Linked DNA regions of Homo sapiens. The protein of the gene in region 2 purifies or fractionates together with the protein of the main gene of each other region. This does not show direct contact. Each region holds a gene or a part of one and is shown on either strand. Other genes may lie near its edges.

The links.
Region 1: the proteins of RPS6KA6 (region 2) and CDHR2 purify together in Homo sapiens (affinity purification with mass spectrometry; one large-scale study listed by BioGRID and IntAct). This does not show direct contact.

What each region holds. Positions count from the first base shown.
Region 1 is NC_000005.10:176,583,841-176,587,664, reverse strand, and holds part of CDHR2 (cadherin-related family member 2 precursor), read right to left. Parts: intron 3,476-3,824; coding exon 3,406-3,475; intron 3,256-3,405; coding exon 2,650-3,255; intron 1,712-2,649; coding exon 1,640-1,711; intron 873-1,639; coding exon 823-872; intron 1-822. UniProt on the Homo sapiens protein: Intermicrovillar adhesion molecule that forms, via its extracellular domain, calcium-dependent heterophilic complexes with CDHR5 on adjacent microvilli. Thereby, controls the packing of microvilli at the apical membrane of epithelial cells.
Region 2 is NC_000023.11:84,062,533-84,066,356, forward strand, and holds part of RPS6KA6 (ribosomal protein S6 kinase alpha-6), read right to left. Parts: intron 2,580-3,824; coding exon 2,439-2,579; intron 1,871-2,438; coding exon 1,745-1,870; 3' UTR 1-1,744. UniProt on the Homo sapiens protein: Constitutively active serine/threonine-protein kinase that exhibits growth-factor-independent kinase activity and that may participate in p53/TP53-dependent cell growth arrest signaling and play an inhibitory role during embryogenesis.

The DNA.
Region 1 (3,824 bases), on a different chromosome or scaffold from region 2:
CTTGTTGAACAGGGAAACGGAGTCCCAGAGAGGGTAGGCAGCTCTCCAGGTCAGTAAGAAGCCCAGCCAGGCCCAGCCCTCGGTGGTGTGGGAAGCCTCATCCCCACACGGCATGGCCACCACCCCTAATAAACTTGCCACATCCAACACCATAAACAGCTGAAAGCCTTTTTATGACTTGGCTCCAATAATTTATTTATTTATTTATTTTTTTTTGAGGCAGAGTTTCACTCTTGTCGCCCAGGCTGGAGTGCAATGGCGTGATCTCGACTCACCGCAACCTCCGCCTCTCGAGTTCAAGTGACTCTCCTGCCTCAGCCTCCCAAGTAGCTGGGATTACAGGCATGCACCACCACACCCAGCTAATTTTGTATTTTTTAGTAGAGATGGGGTTTCTGCATGTTGGTCAGGCTGGTCGCAGACTCCCGACCTCAGGTGATCCACCTGCCTTGGCCTCCCAAAGTGCTGGGATTACAGGCTTGAGCCACCGTGCCCAGCTGGCTCTGAGAATTATTTAATGACAAGGCACTGGCTTAATTTACAATTAGCTATGAGTTCTCTGTATTACTCAAGAATTCTGGTATAGTAAGAAATATCTGGACTGCAAGTGGTATTTACGGTCATGACATTTTTATGAATGCTACATTTATCACAGTGAAGTTTGATTACATTGATTAGACAGGTGTTGGTTTCCCTTCTGGGGTTTTCTTTTTCATGTGTTGGAGCCCATATATTTTCTTTCTACCATGGAAGGCCTGAAGGCCTCAGCCCTGTGTCCCCTGGGGCTCATATGACCAACAAAGGCTGGAGCCAAGAACTTACCCGGACAGAAGCCACCTCCCGGTTGGGCAGCACGAGTTCAGGGATGATCACTGCAGGTGTGAACGGGAACGGGGTCAGCGGGGTCGGGACACTGCCCACCTGGACCAAGGCTGGTCACGAGCCCAGCTCAGGGCTCATCCCCCTAAACCTGCCCTCAACCTCTCTACCAAAAGAGACCCCTATTACAGCCACCACTGGGCCAGTAGTTAGCAAGTCATCCACCTCCCATTGTCACAGGTGAGGTCACAGGCCCACAGGACCATGCGGAAATGGAGGCCCAGAGAGGGAAGTCCTGGCCCAGGGCCAGACATTAGGTCGGACAGAGCTGGAATGAAAACTCCAGTGTTGGCTGGGCATGGTGGCTCATGCCTATAATCCCAGCACTTTGGGAGGCCAAGGCGAGCAGATCACTTGAGGCCAGGAGTTCAAGACCAGTCTGGCCAACACAATGAAACCCTGTCTCTACTAAAAATACAAAAATTAGCCAGGTGTGGTGGCGCATGCCTGTAGCCCCAGCTACTCTGGAGGCTAAGGCATGAGAATTGCTTGAACCTGGGAGGCGGAGGTTGCAGTGAGCTGAGATCGTACCATTGCGCTCCAGCCTGGGCGACAGAGCAAGACTCCGTCTCAAGAAAAAAAGGAAAGAAAAAAGAAAACTCCAATGTCCTCTCCTATTGCAGCCCTAGGAAGATGCAGGATTAGAGGCCTTCCCCCCTTTCTAAAGGCTCCCCCTGGGGTCCAAGGAGGGTCTGTCGGGGTTGCTCAAAGGCGGCCTTATGGAGCAGGGGTATGGTGTGTGAATGGGGTTGCTGCTTACCAAAAGTCTTATTCTCAGGCAGAAAATAGGGTGCATTGTCATTCACGTCCTCAATGGTAATGAGGAGGCTTCCTAGGAGACAAGGTCAGCTGGCTTTGGCTCTGGGCAAAAGCTTGACCCAAAGAGCCTGGGCCTCAACCCTGTGCCCCACAGCCTCAACCCCATGCCCCGCAGCCTCAACCCCGTGCCCCGCAGCCTCAACCCTGTGCCCCGCAGCCTCAACCCCGTGCCCCGCAGCCTCAACCCCATGCCCCGCAGCTTCTCTCCCATGTGTTCCCCCATGCTCAGTCCCCTTCCCTGCTCCTGACCCAGAATGCCTGATCGGTCTTCTCTGGCCTGTGTGGGTGGGAGTATCATCCCAGACCTCAGAGCAGATAAGCAGCTTGTCAAAGTCACACAGCAATAGTGGTGGGCCAGGATTGGGCCCAGCCTAGGTAGATCTCACCTATGACATTATACTGACACATTCTAACTATATAAGCTGGTTGTTTAAATACCCACTTTCTGCCTCAGTTTCCTCATCTATAAAATTGGATAGGGAACACCTACCCCATGGGTTGTGTGGAAGTGGAAAAATTCTTACAAGGTGCCTGGTGTAGTTCTTGGCTGTCATAAGGACTCAATATATGCTAGTTGTTAATGTGATTATTATTGCTATTTGGTGTCAGAAGTGGGATACAAGCACACATCTAGCTCTGCAGTGTTATCTTTCTTTCACAGCATCTTGTAAAATAATGGCATTAATTTGATGCTACTGCATGCCAGGCACTGCAATAAATGCCATACATCCATATTCTCATTGAATCTTCACAGCCCACCCCACTGCCCAACTCCACTGGACAGATGGGGAAACTGAAGCTTGGAGAGGGTTTGGGACTTTCCCAGTATTTGCAGCTGGAAAGGGCTGGAGCCAAGATCTGAGCCCAGACCTTGTGAGTTCCAGCCCAGGGCTCCTTCCCGCGGCCCCTAAGCTATGGCCTGCCAAGCCCTGCAAGGACAGGCTGCCTTACCATTGTTGCTGTAGGCCTGGAAGCCGGGGTCCGTGGCTAGGTCACAGGCCCGCACAACCAGCGTGACCAGGTCACAGGCCTCGTAGTCGATGGCTTTGCTCTGGTTGATGTACACAGAGCCGTTGGCCGCCACTGAGAACCAGCCCCAGCATAGGCTGCCCACATCGACCCCGGCCTTGGTGCAGAGAATGTTCACAAGCTGTATCTCCAGCTGGGCACTGGTGTCCACATCCGAGGCAACCACCACAGCCACCTGGCCGTGCTGTGAGCCATTCTCAGCCACACGGATGCCCCGGAGTGAGGCTACATCCAGGGTGGGGGGATTGTCGTTCACGTCTTTCACATTCACGCAGACGTCTACTATGGTCTCACCCCCCTGGGGGTCTGGGTTCTCAGCACTCACTGTCAAGTTGAAGACGGGCTGTGTCTCGTAATCCAGGCTCACGTCCGGGGGCAGCCGGAGGTAGCCCTCAGCCCACCCAGCCCCCAGCACCAAGCCTCGGATCATGAAGTAGTTGGCACCACTCCCCGACAGGCTGAAGCTGATGCGGTTGTTGGCTTCCGTCTGGTCCGCGTCCCAGGCCTTCACCACGCCCACTAGCACTCCTGTGGACAAGGGGCAGAGCTCAGAAGGACTCCTGACCCCGCCATCGGAAGCCTCCTCTGCCCTTGCCTCTCTTGGAACTCGAGGTCCACCCTGACAAAGCCACACTGGGTCCCAGCCGCAGTGTCTCTCCTGGCCCAGGGAGCACATACCTGGATCCTCCTCCTTCACCGTAAAGTTGTAGCTGGACTGATTGAAGATGGGCAGGTTATCATTGATGTCCTGCAGTCAGAGACAGGTCTGAGTCCCCGGGATCCAATCTCACCCTCCCCAGAGCCAATCCGAGAAACCAATAATCCCTGTGCTCCAAGGCATGGACTCTACTAGTGCCTCAGACCTCACTGCCCACTTCCCAGATGAGGAGACAGGCTCTGAGAGGAGGGAACTTGCCCAGGTCACACACCCGGGGTTCAGGGACCTACAGTGGGACCTTGGCCTTACACATCCATCCTCAGGAAGCCCTGCTTGCTTCCTGTTTCTCTGACCACAGCTCAGGACTTGTTCTAGACCCTGCTTTCTAGAAGCACAGTTCTGGGTCCCCACCTGCGACCCTGCCTGGCCCAGCTTGACT
Region 2 (3,824 bases):
GACATGATACCTAACTACTTCTAAGTAATTATTTTTCATGTGGCATAAATTGTTATTTAATCTCTTTCAATTATTTCCAAAAGATACCTCAAAATAAGAATACATACTTTAATATATCACACCCAGGAAACAGATATTTGTGCATGGGGTATAGATTATTTACATTACAAACAGAATATGTATAGTTTCTTTTATTAAATACCAAAGTTACGAGTTTCCTAGCCTAAATTGTATAATTCAGCACTCAGTAATCAACTTTCTCTCTGAATAAAGCAAAATAAAATACATAGCAAATAGTACACCTAACACGCACAAGTAGTTCACTTATATTCACTAAAGAAAACTGTGATATCCTCCAGTTTACATTCATGAATTCTTTCTGTCAGTAGTAGTAGTAGTAGTAGTAGTAGTAGTAGTAGTAGCAGTAGTAGCTGCTGCTGTTGTTGTAGCAACGGTATTTTCTTCAACAACGTGAAATGATTCTTTAGCATTTCATCATTTAGAGAAAAGAATACATACTACACAGTGGTTCTGAATTATACATTAAATAAGACCAATTTGGCCAGTTTTTTATAAATATGATTTTAAAATGTGCTCAAATTTTTTGTAGACCATTAATATTATTCATATTTAAAATGTTAGTTTATCTTCATGAAGTAAAATGATTAAGTAGCATTGTCTAAAGTTTACTGTAATACAATATACTATATCATGTGTGCTATATGCACAAGTCCACTACAGCAAGATGTCAACTGTATTATCATAGGATTCAAGGTAGAATGATATGCTACACTGTACTTCAAAGCACATCGAAGTCAGAAAAACAACAGTGTAGTTCATTTATAAAGGGGATAGATGATGATTACAATCCAATTGGTTAACTTGAAAGTCAGTTTATATAACACCAGGATAGTGTCAACACCACATACTTCATTTTCAAAGGCTTAACTATGACCTATTTATAAGATTACACCAACAGTATAAAGCCTTTGGAAAAAAAAAAAGTTTCACTTGTACTAAATTTCCATGATGTAAAATTTACAGAAGCCTTATAAAAACCTTTATTTCTAAATGAGGCCACTTATTATGGATAATATACAGATCTGCCTGCACACATTATCTGAGATATAATTCTTCTATAAAAACTTTGGCACCAACTATATCAAGAATTCATATATTAGCACAAATGTATTTTGCTCTGGCACCAAACCACTATGTTTACATTTTAGTAACTACAGTGAGTCAAATGAATGGAGTCCTTTGGTTTTACGGAATAACAAGCTTTTATAATAAGTTTTTGTTGTTTTTCTTTCATTAGAAAAAGCCTATCCTTCAGGATCTGATGTTTAAAAATACTAACATTGCTTGTCATTATACTATTATATATGTATACTGATTGTTGGTAATGACTCCCCAAACCATAATTGTATGAAACAAGAAAAAAAATATTAAAGTAACTTTATTTGAAAGGAATTTTAGAAGCTTGTGTGCAGAGAAGTTGTGAGGACCTGGTGGACACCAATTATATGCTTAAATAAACACTTGAACACTACTGCAAACACATAGTATGAATATTGTGGACCTGTGAATGGTTTTTTAAATCTCACTTCCCCTAAAAATGGGGATTTAATATTACTTAATATTCAAGTAATTTAGCAGACAACGATGCCTTTGATAAGAATAGGAAAAAAGCCACACATTTAATTTCATCTTCATCCAGTTTGGCCTAGGAACACCACAAATCTTACAGGCCAGTTGATGTTCGCTTTTTCATGCTCCGTCGCTGGGCTAAGCTTGAAGCAGCTACAGGCTCTAGGACTGGTTGAAAGGTCTTGTGAGTCAGGGCAGAGTATGTTGCAACCATTGCTCCCTAAAGTAATGAGAAAATGCCACAAACTAAGTACAAATTCTGGAGTTAAAAAAAAAAAAAACTTTCACATGATATCATGAGACATATATCTAGAACAAAATGTTTTCCTAGGAAAATAATTGAATATATTAGATCTGTGCACTGATGAATCAATATTACTTGTATGTTTTTCATTTCAATAACTATGCTTTTTACAAAAAATTGTTAAAACACTAACATTTAAAACCTTGATTCAATGTATATGGATATAGGAATGGTTTCACGAACAGTTATAAATTAAGAACTAACAGCAATCTTTTATTTCAATATGAAACTTGCATTTAGCCCAATCCTAATTCCAGCATCTCTCAAAAGCACGGCAGGTACAATCAAGAAATTTTTATTGTTTCATCTGAAAGGCAGTAGTAAAGTAAGCTAAGAAAAGTACATGGTTGTTAATTTAAAAAAATCTATCTTTAAAAAATAAAGATATTTTAAGGAATTATTTAAGTGTCATCAGCAAGTGGCACACAATGGGTTTATTAGGTATCTGATATCTCGAAGGCACATAAAAGTATGTTTGTTTTACCTTAACAACATGTGACACATCATTTCTCTTTGGCTGATCATTTGGCAACTGGTCTCTGTGAGTTATCCATGAGTGCTTTAATATTTGTTCAGCAGTATACCGCTGATGTGGGTCCATATGAAGCATATGGGAAAGCAAATCCTAAATTAAAAAAAATGTGTGTGTATATATATATACATGTATACATACATAATTTTACATTTGCTGAAAATGTGACAGCATCAATAGCCTTGCAATCTGTTTATTTCACCTACATTTATGCAAAGTAAAATCTATACTCTACACAGTTAACTCTCAAGAGAATCTTGAGAGATATTTTTCAATATATACTAAATCCTTATACACCACTTTTAAATCGGAAGATGCCAAATCTGTGGAATTGGATGTGTGATTAGTGACGGAGGAGGAAAATGTAAAATGGCAGAAGTTATCCTGGAATATGCTAAATGTTCAGCAGGAGACAGGAGCTATTGAACTTTGCTGTTAAGCTGGGCCCCAAGGTGTAAGGGTATGTGTACACAGATAAAACATAGAAGGGAGGGTCCCATGTAGTTAATCCATTCAATAAATGGTGGCTTACTATATAACATATTAAGAAAGCAAACCATAAATCCAATGTTAGCAAGTGGCTTCTATCATAGTAGTCCCCAGTGCATTTTAAGTTTTTCATCAAAGTAAGTGTACGTTTGCTTATGTTATCTCTGTTGCAATTAAAAAAGTTGTAAATTTAATATAACCTCACAGGAAAAGTTTTCAATATATTAAGAGATGTAATACTTTTAAATAAACTGTCTCTCCCAAGTATCTTTTAGAGAAATGAGAAGTAAACTCCTTAATAAGCATTTTCGGAGAATCTGGCAAGATGGCCGAATAACAGCTCCGGTCAGCAGCTCCCAGTGAGACCAAAGCAGAAGGTGGGTGATTTCTCCATTTACAACTGAGGTACCCAGTTCGTCTCACTGGGACTGGTTAGCCAGTGGGTCCAACTCACGGAGGGTGAGCAGAAGTAGGGTGGGGCATCGCCCAACATGAGAAGTGCAAGGAGCCAGGGGACCTCTCTCCCTCAGCCAAGCAAAGCTGTGAGGGACTGTGCTACCCAGCCCAGATACTACACTTTTCCCATGGTTTTTGCAATCCACAAATCAGGAGATTCCCTGGTGTGCCTACACCACCAGGGTCCTGGGTTTCAAGGATAAAACTGGGAGACAATTTGGGCAGACAGTGAGCTAGCTGCAGTTTTTTTTTTTTTTTTCGTAACCCAGTGGTGCCTGGAATCCCAGCGAGACAGAACCATTCACTCCTCTGGAAGTGAGGCCGAAGCCAGGGAGCCAAGTGGTCTTGCTCAGTGGGTCCCACTCCCACGGAGTCCAGCAAGCTAAGAACCAC